Linked DNA regions of Homo sapiens: region 1 is linked to region 2. The links come from fine-mapping of genetic effects on gene expression. A gene starts in region 2. The other region holds a variant in brackets. All regions are shown on one strand. Distances are from middle to middle.

What was found.
Region 1: its variant is fine-mapped to the expression of TMEM170B in whole blood (TOPMed, PIP above 0.99).

The regions. Positions count from the first base shown.
Region 1 is chr6:11,487,638-11,492,803 of GRCh38, reverse strand. It overlaps LOC105374928 (a long non-coding RNA gene), which reads right to left. Exons shown (of 5, transcript NR_187824.1): 2 at 5,093-5,166; 3 at 2,340-2,491. Among named protein-coding and RNA genes, the nearest start is that of TMEM170B, 48 kb to the left of the region's middle. RefSeq lists an enhancer at 680-799. The variant C/G (reference allele first, on the strand shown) is at 3,211.
Region 2 is chr6:11,535,726-11,540,891 of GRCh38, reverse strand. TMEM170B (transmembrane protein 170B) reads right to left here and starts at 3,143. Exons shown (of 3, transcript NM_001100829.3): 1 at 2,518-3,143. The coding sequence starts at 2,614. RefSeq lists silencers at 2,190-2,469, 2,480-2,559, 2,660-2,819, 2,850-3,679 and an enhancer at 2,349-2,850.

The sequences.
Region 1 (5,166 bases), 48 kb after region 2:
CCCTATTCCCAGTTTTACTTCACAATGTTTTGAGGCATGTCTATGAGGCCCCAATCCTACACCCACGTAATCTCTCTCTACACTGCCTTTCTCTCCCTAACCCTGCGGCTACAGCTCCCCACACCAGTAGGCTCAGCCCACACTAGTTCCCAAACCAACCTGGGATTGCGTAAGCAACTTTAAACCTAAACCTACAAATCTACTGTGAAACTCAGAGTTTGATGACCGTGCAATGACCCCAGTTCCTGGCTGCCATGTTACATCCTGAACCCTTACTACAGATTTAACTGGGATGGGATATCCCCGAGGTATCCATCAGGATCCAGCATCCATAATAATAGTTGCTCTCCATGGGGAATTTCTGCTAAAAGCAATCCTCTAATCCTGACAACAGAGACTTTCACCATCTTTGTCTTAAAAGATGAGGATGCAGGGGCCTGAAAGAGGCTATGTAACTTCCCCAAGTCAGTGTCAAGCTGGGACTGGAAGATGAGTATTCTAAAAATTATACACTGTGAGCTGTGATTCAGCCTCGAGGGACTCTACTTGCAACCACTGTCTGGTCTTCCAGTTTGAAACTTGTTCTGAGCTTCCTCTTCTACCTGAGTCTCCAACCAGGTTCCTCCTTGAAAACTGAGTTAGCTAGGTGACCAGGACCCTGTACCCCAGGTTCATCTCACCTGGCTTTCTATCGTTCACCAGAATTTCTTACTGCAATGTTCCCCTTCTCTTGGGACACATGACTGCTTAACATAGGCTTTTAATGTGTGGCTCCTTGTCTGTGAGAGTTGGGAGCAAAGTAGGCCACGGGCATGAGGAAGGCGATATTGTAGCAGCCTTGCTATCAGGGTCAACATGGTGCAGGCAGGCATTCGGTCCTCTGCAGCCCTGTAGGGCTGCAATGCGTACCCTCAATGACTCTCAGCACACACGTGTGCACACACCACACACACAACCCGATACACACATGCACACACTCCACACACACACACACACTCAAACATACCACACACACCACACACACAACCCGATACACACATGCACACACTCCACACACACACACTCAAACATACCACACACACAACCCGATACATATCACATACACACACTCCACACACACACACCACACACACAACCCAATACACATCACATGCACACACTCCACACACACTCACACAAACATACCACACACACCACACAACCCAATATACACACACATATACACACCACATATACACCACACAACCACATACACACCACACACATCATACACACACCACCCTAACACACCATACACACACAACCCTAATGCAGCAGCAAGTTGGAGGACAGAAAGACACATACATATACACACCACACACATATACACACCACACACACAAAACCCTACACACATCACACAAATATACATATACACATCACACACACACCATATACATACACAACCCTACACACATCACAAACCTATGCATACATACACATACCATATATACCCACACACACAACCACATACACAGCACACACACAACACATCATACACACACAACACATACACACGACCCTACATACATCACACACACATGCACATATCACATATGCACCGCACACACCATACACATACACATCACACACACGACTCTATACACATCACACACATAAATACACATATACACACCACATACGTACCACACACAACATACACAGCACACAGCACATGCATCATACAAACACATACACACACATACCACATACATAGCATATACGCTACACACACATACACACATGCTATGCACGCACATAGACACACACACACCCTTTCTTCCTAGATTCCCAAGTCTTACACTGCACCGCCACCTCTCCTGACAGGCATAGAGGGCTGACTGTATTGAAGCCCGGCTGCAATGAAAAAACCTGGTTCCCTTGGTGGCTGTGACAACAGCATCATCAGGCATCTAACCAAGGCAAGTGCTGCAGTCGATGTTCCCGAGTATTCCTCTCTAGATATAAGCTCCTTTGCTTCTGAAGCAATCTCAAAACTCCTTTACAGTCTGGTTCAACAAATTCCCACACTTGTACAATGTTTAGTCCATAAGTACTGAACATCAAAGCCAACAGAAAACCCTAGGCGTAGGTCTGTCTATTCAGAGATTATCTCAGTTGACAGCAAGTGAATTGACCCATCCAAACCACTGGGTTCCATGACAAATTCTTCTCCAGTACCTAATATCTTCGGGATAACGCATTCATTCGCTGAACAACTCTTTGCTGATTGCCGGTGTTAGGTCACTGAGGGAGACACACATCTATGACTCATGTGACCTCAGCCCTCCAGGACCTACCTTCCAGTTTGCTGGGTGTCATAGCAGATGCAGTAGGCAGACTGCTCGGACCAGCTCCACATCCATCCTCCATTCACAAGAAAGGCTTCTTGCTGTGAGTATCTGCAATTCTCTGCTGGGGGGATTTTCTTTACTGGCCAAGTGTGCCTGCCCTGAATGCAGGACAAAATGGAAATGCTCAAGAATGATTTTCCCTGGAATCCCTCAAATAAATAATGGGCAAGGCATTGGTGAATACACATTGGAGCCTCCCTGACCTTGGCTGGGATAACTTTGTTCCACATTGCCTCCAGTGGGATTGAGGTCTAGTCCTCCATATCAGTAACTGAACTGATAATTCATCCTTAATTGATTTTCTTTGCCTCCCACTTTTACTAACCCCCTCCTCCACTGATGATTACTGGGATCACCTCTCAGCTAAACTACTCAGATTTGAATCCTTGTCTCAGAATCAGCTTTCAGAGGAACCCCGACTAATTAAAGGGCTAAAATACATGTATAGATAGTTATAATTCTAGAAGAAATGAGGTAGATGACATTAGAGTGCTTTATTTAAAATCCTGTAAGAGTTCACAGGAAGAGTAAATTACTTTGAGTTCGGAAATTAGAAAAGACTTCTTGGAGGACAGTCCTTAAATGGGGAGTAGGATTTGGGTGTTCAGTGATGGAGCAAAAGACACTCTGAGTGGGGTTGGGTAAGTGGAGGCATGACAGCAGGAATTGAGTATGGCATGTTTGAAAACAGTTCAGTCTTACAGAAGCATTTTATAAAGGAAAACAGCAGCAGAGGAGCCAGGTAAAGATAGATTTTAAATCCTAATGCCAAGGTCAGAAATGTTTATCAAGCTATCTAGCACAGCTCTATCCAATA[C/G]AAATTTCCAGAATGATGGAACTGTTCTAACAATGAGTTGTTCAAAATGGAGGCCACTAGATACAGGTGGCTATTAAGCATTTGAAATATGGCTAGTGCCACTAAGAAACTGAATTTTTAATTTAATTTAATTTAATTTAATTTTAACGAACTTAAGTAGTCAAATGGCCAAGGACTGCTATTTTGGACAGTAGATTTCCGGGCAATGCAATATGACAGGATCAGAAATATGCTTCAGGATAAGTAATCAGAGAACTGACTCTAAGATCATATGGGAGGTGATCTGAAGATAGAGACCGATGATGAGGCAGAATCAATAACTGGGTAAGTGTCGTTTCTTATTAAAGTTGAAAATGAAAATATTTTCTTCAAATAAAAAAACAAACACATAAATAAAACAGATGAAAGTGGAGCTAACCTTGCTAAAATGAGGAGAAGTCCTTGAGGAATCTCCCTGGAAATCCCAAAAGCTGCTCAGAACTCAGCTCATTAACCACTAGGCCAAGTCAAAGGTGGTGAAGAGTTCTACCAAGGTAATAAAAATGAAGAGGAGGAATAAATCTGGGAGACGTGATAGAAGTGAAGTTAATCTCTCTTAGCAACTAATTACGTATAAGAAGTAAGCCTTGAATATCTGCACATTTATTCTCTTATTCACCTAAGCCCAAACCCTGGTGTTATCCAAAATTCTTCCCCATTACTCAGTCATCACAAATATATTCTTCCCCATTACTCAATCGTCACAAATATACGAGGTGAACAAGAATAAAGCTTATTGAACAAAATTAACATACACAGTGTGACATAGATAGTATTGAGAAAAATCAGGACTCACATCCAGGTTCATTGATGAAAGGCTTTCCCTAGGGTTTCCTGCCCACCCCCAGGATAATGCAGTCATAGGAGCCAAGGTAGGGGCCTTTACAAGTAGGGTTGTCAATCAATAGTTTTAAACACAGCAGCAAGTTGGGGGAGAGAAAGACAAATGGATATTAAAGTTGGGAGTTAATTTCAGTTAGAGTTAAGGGAAAGAAGGTAGGCTCTCAGATGTCAGACTGCTAGGATTTCAGGGATATGGTAAACAAATGAAGTATAAAAAAAGTGAAGATGCAAAAGTGAAGGCAATGAATATAAACTACTCTTTAGCTCTTTGGTAAATGGAAGAAAAGGATGGAATACCCTGGGAATACTCAGCAACCTGCTTGCTGACTTGCATTTTCTTCGTCTGTGAAATCTTAAAGTATCAAGAACACCCAATGTCTTTTCTTTTTTCTTTTTTTTTGAGACAGTTTCTCTCTTGTTGCCCAGGCTGGAGTGCAGTGGTGCAATCTCGGCTCACTGCAACCTCCGCCTCCCAGGTTCAAGCAATTCTCCTGCCTCAGCCCCCTGAGTAGCTGGGATTACAGGCATGTGCCACCACATCCAGCTAATTTTGTACTTTTAGTAGAGAGAGGGTCTCTCCATGTTGGCCAGGCTGGTCTCAAACTCCCGACCTCAGGTTATCTGCCCACCTCGGCCTCCCAAAGTGCTGGGATTACAAGCAAGAGCCACCGCGCCTGGCCAACCCAATGTCTCTTCAAAGAAAGTCCTTGGTCATCTGTCACTTTACTTAGAACTAAGTGGCCTCATCATCAGATTGATAGGACCAGAGGTAAACCACTGAGGGAGCCATCTCTTTTAGGCTTACTTGTGAGAATGGAACAGCCTGGTAGAAGAGCTCTTCCCAATAGAGGCAGGGTGCACTGATGGCCAATTGCCCAGGGAACTCGCCCTCCCCGTCAAGGAGTTGGAACCCCCCAAAGACACCAGAGAGTTGCAGGTAGCAGCAGGGAAGGTAGAGGCAGAGACATAAATGGGGGATCACTTTGTCTCCTCCAGTCACCTGAAGCAGAGAACAATAAATTTATTCCCTGAAGAAACAAGATGACCAGATGCGTGGAGCTTCATGGTGTCTTG
Region 2 (5,166 bases):
CAATGTTGTTTTCATGACTGCTAACACAACATCCATTCTGCAGACCATGGATCAAAGAGTAATTTTGACTTTCTAGTCTTATTATTTAAGAAATACACTGTGTAAGAAGGCTAAAACTGCCAGAGATAGTGATTCCTCTGATGGACCTGGGCAAAGGAAATTGAAAACCTTCTGGAAAGGAGTCACCATTCCAGATGCCCTTAAGAACAATCGTGACTCATGAGAAGAGGTCCAAATATCAACTTTCATAGGAGTTGGAAAGCAATTGACTCCATTCCTCATGGATGACTTTGAGGGGATCAACACTTTAGTGGAGGAAGTAACCATAGGTGTGGTCGAAATAGCAAGAGAACTAGAATTAGAAGTGGAGCCTGAAGATGTGACTGAATTGTTGCAATCTCATGATAAAGTTTGAATGGATGAGGAGTTGCTTCTTATGGATGAGCAAAGAAAGTGGTTTCTTGAGATGCAATCTACTCCTGGTGAAGATCATGTGAACACCGTGGAAATGACAACAAAGGATTTAGACTATTAGATAAACTCGGTTGATAAAGCCGCAGCAGGGTTTGAAAGGACTGACTCCAATTTTGAAAGTTCTACTGTGGATAAAATGCTACCCAACAGCATCCCATGCTACAGAGAAATCTTTCATGAAAGGAAGAGTCTATTGCTCTTCCTTAGTGGCAAACTTCATTGCTGTTTTAAGAAAACTGCCATCATCCCAATCTCCAGCAATCATCACCTTGATCAGTCAGCAGTCATCAACACAAAGACAAGACCCTCTACCAGAAAAAAGATAACGTCCTTGCTGAAGGCTCAGATGATCGTTAGCAATTTTTCAGCAATAAAGTATTTTTAAATTAACGTCTGTACTTTTTTTTCAGACATAATGCTATTTCACATTTAAAGACTACAGGTAAAATGTAACTTTTACATGCACTAGGAAAACAAAAAATTCATTTGGCTCACTTTATTGCAATATTTGCTTTATTGTGGTGTTCTGGAACCAAACCTGCAATCTTTCCAAGGTATGCCTGCACAAATATATGTTAAGTCCCTACTTTTCATTTCACTTAAACAAAAACTGGTACAGTTCAAATACCAAACAGTGGATAAATGCAAGCAAAATCATAAGTAAGATAAAGCAGTCTACCTCTAAATTCAACTGAATCATGAGATGGTCTTTATGTCCATTTAGTTTTCCAGAATTATAACAATATATTCCTTACCGGCAATCATCATGTAAAGTCAGTCTGTTTCAAGTTAAATAACCACAGCTTAAAAGTGAGGATAGCATGAAGCAATCCAGAATCTACTTTAACTGTATAGTTTCCATTCGAAGAAACCAGTGTCCTTAAAGTTGTCTTTTGTGGTATATAATTCCATAAAATTTTCTTCTATGAATGTTTGTATTCTATACCATGCCAGACTTTATATATATGTTATATATATGAACCCAGGTTATATTTGTAAAATACTCACAACACTTTAACCAGTTTGACAAAATGCATTTTGAAATACTAATGTTCTACTGAAATTAACTGCCTTACACATTTTCAAGAATTAAATTCTGAGTATTTTTTTAAGATTTTTTTCCTCTGAAAAGCAGGCACTGAGGAGTCACCAAATCGCAACTGAATCTCTTTCTCGTAAATTCTACTTCAGAGAATAATTTTTAAATTCGGAACTCAAAGTATAATGTAAGCATTTCCACATAACAAAACCAGAAGTTTCTTCACAAAGCAAATCTACAGACTGAATAAAAATATTGTGTGTTTTATCACTCACTTTTACAAATAGAAATTGATGTTATAAGGCCAATTACTGACAGCCTTAATAAATGAAGGGAAATACACAAAATTATCAAATGTCTCAGAAGCAGCAGCTGGAGGCCTGAGGGAAAGAGACAGACAGACAAAAGGAAATGGGAGGGGAAGGAGATATATGAAGCTAACACGCTTAGACCGCACTAGACCTTAGCTCAGCCCCTGACCCACTATAATTTACTCAGTTATCTACATCGCCCAAAAAATTAGCGGTTGAAAAAGTAAATCGACCATTGTGGGCAATGATTTTAGGTTCTACATTTGGCTTGAGATTTGCCAGAAAGAAAAAGAACTAAATCAGAAAAAGATGTAAATAGCAAGAAGCGATGTGTGTAGAAGGGGGAGGGGAGGAGGGTAATGGAATAAAAGCGAAATGCGCTCAAGTCTCAGCACTAAAGCTACTCCGCGCGTACTACAGAGGCCGGGCCGCCACCGGGAGCTCTCCCCGTGCGGGGCAGGAGCGGGGGTCGCTGATGCTCCCCTGGCGACTCAGGGAAGGGGGTGGCGGGAGCCGGCGCCCCCGGGACACGCGCAGAGTGGCTCCGATTAACACCTTCCTCGCCGGGACCTGGAGCTCCGAGCGGGGCGCGCACGGGGGTGGGGCGGCGAGGAGCGTGTCCCCTCCCGAGGAAGGAGAAGACAGGAGAGGGGCGGACCGCATCCCCGTCCCCAGCCCAGGCGCGTCAATTACCCGTGAGGTTCCTCAGCACCGTCCCGTGGGCCCAGAGGCTCAGGACCTGCTGCACCGACAGGTTGATCATGGAGTGGTCGCCCCCCTCCGCCTTCATCTTCCCCGAGGGGCGCCCGCCGCCCTCTCCTCGGGTGCCGGGCGGCGGCGGCGGCTGCGAGGCTCGGGGGGCGGCGGCGGGTGCGCGGCTCCTCCAGGCCGCCGCCGCTGGTGGAGGCTGCGGGACGCCGGGCCGGGCGCTGCTGCTGCTGCAGCCGGAGGGCCTCCGTGGGGGGGCCGCTCAGCGTGTCTCCCAGGCAGCCCCCTCCCCGCCGGGGAGACATTGAGGACGGCGGACGGAGGAAGGAGGGGAGGGGGCCGGGCGCCGTCCTCGCGCGGCCCCCGAGCGAGGACTCGGGGCGGAGGAGGCCGCCGCCGCTCCCTCTCAGGGGCAGCGCCGCGCCGCGGGGACTGGACACGCGAGGAGGCCGAGGTCACGCCAGGAGGCCGGTGCTGATGGGCAGCCGGCAGGTGCAGCCCCCGACAGGGCCCAGCTCATCGCCGCCGGAGGACGGAGACGCGGGACCAGCCAGAGGCTGCGGCGGCACCTGCCGCCCGCCTGCCCGCCCTCGGGTCGCCGACACTCGAGGAACCGCCCCCTCCACCCGCAGCCGCCGGCGGGCCACTCGTGCACGCGCACGCGCGCGCCTCTCAGCGCCGGCCCCTCCTCCCCTGCGCTCCCCGGAGCCGCTGCGCATGCTCACTCCCCCGCTCCCCGCGACCCGCCGCCCTCCAACAGCCGGTCGGCCCCAAAGCCCTCCTTCTCGCTCTCCCCTCGCGCTGCAGCGCGCGTGGCTGACGGCGCCGAGCGACGGCCCGCAGTGGGGCGGAGGGAAGCGCGGTCTACGTCACTGGCGCCACCGCCGGGCCTTACTGCTGATTGGGCGCTCCAAGGGAACCGCCTCCACGCCCCCCACCCCCGGACCCCGGGCGCGCGCCCTGAGAGACCGGGAGACCTGGATCCCTCGCCCTGGCCCGGCTGGGTGCGCGCGGTGCGGGCGGCGTGGGCGGTGCGGGCATTTCGGGGGCCCGCGCTGCAGGGGCAGCCCTGACCCAAGGTGGGGCTGCTGAACTCGGTGAGGTGGATACTGTGACAGTTCAGATTTTTGCCTTAAAATGTAATGCTTTTTGATAAAGATGCTTATGTATAACTTTTTTAAAAAGGTGTCACTATCTCAGCATTTAGATATATTAATTTGCGGGGTTTTTTTTCTGAGCCTGAATCGAATGACCTGGATAGGTCACTTACTTGCAGAATGCATGTTAAAACCCCTAAAACACAAACAGACCTGCGTTATCATTCTGCTAATCCCTCTTCCCGCAGCAAGAACTTGGGCCTCCCGGGGTTCCAGGACCTGCCTGACATTACCTGTTTACTCCAGGCTCGGCAGGTGTCCTAATCCTCAAGGCCATCGCCGGCTCTAGCCCCCCTTTTTTTGATGGTAGTATTCTTTTATCTAAGTTGCGTCTGTTATTTTTTTCCCTCGAACTTAAACTAGATCTCTCTCCCCACGCTTTGCTGTCTGTCTTCATGTCCAGCGTTAGCCAGAGGAGCATCTAAAATCCAACTACAAGTTAAACTCCTCGAAATTGGAAACCTTCTAACTTTAAAAAATAAAAATTTAAGTTTTAGCAGTAACATAAATATGCAGTAGCCAGCCCCTCCCCCCACCTTTTTTCAACCCCTCTGCCATCTGGATAAAGAAAAATTTACAAAGAGAAGTGAAGAAATACCTGCTGTAGCTAAATCATGAAGTATATTTGACAAAGCACTGAAGGGTCAAATTACCTGTCAAATGGTGCTCTTGGTGACCACTTTAAAATAATATTTACATACACATTTATTTCTTTGTTTATTTGTATTTTCTTTTTGATGTCACAACATAAGAGAAATTTTTGCACCATTAATAGGAATTGAGCCAAAACTCTTAATGTAGAGTTTATCTTCCTCCTAGAATTTAGACTTAATTAGATCTATTAACAAGATTACAGAATATCAAACCTAAAAGAGCGCTTTAACATTTTTCTAATTTTATTTTACAGATAGGGAAACAGATTCTGTGAATTAAGTGACTTGACAGAGATGACAGCACTTCACAGCTCAGTTTCTGAATTCCTGGTCTATTATTCTTTCTAGCAACCACATTATCTTTCTTAACCCACTGTTAACTCCCTCACTTTAAGATTCTTGATGGGGAAGTGCAGGTTACCTAATGATATTCTTAAGGGACTTGGCATTACATAATTAGTGATGTTAGGGAATGTGACCACATTCAGTGAAGGGTTCACAGCAAACTCCCTGAGCAGGGGCTCATTAAACTCTCATATCAGAAACCTTTAGTTAGTTTACGTTCTTAGGATTGCACACTATTATTTAAAACACAGTAGCACGCAGTGAAAATATTCAGAACCTGGGACAGTGCCTGGCACCTGCACCACAAATATTTGTTGAATGAATCACTGAATGATCTTCATAGAAAAGTCAGCATTGTTCTTGTTCTGAATAAATATTTTTTACAGAATCCAAGTGTTCATGTCAGGAAATGAGAAAGACACAGCAATGAAGTCTCAAGTCAGTAATGTTATTTGCTGCCCAACAACTTCACCCCTGCT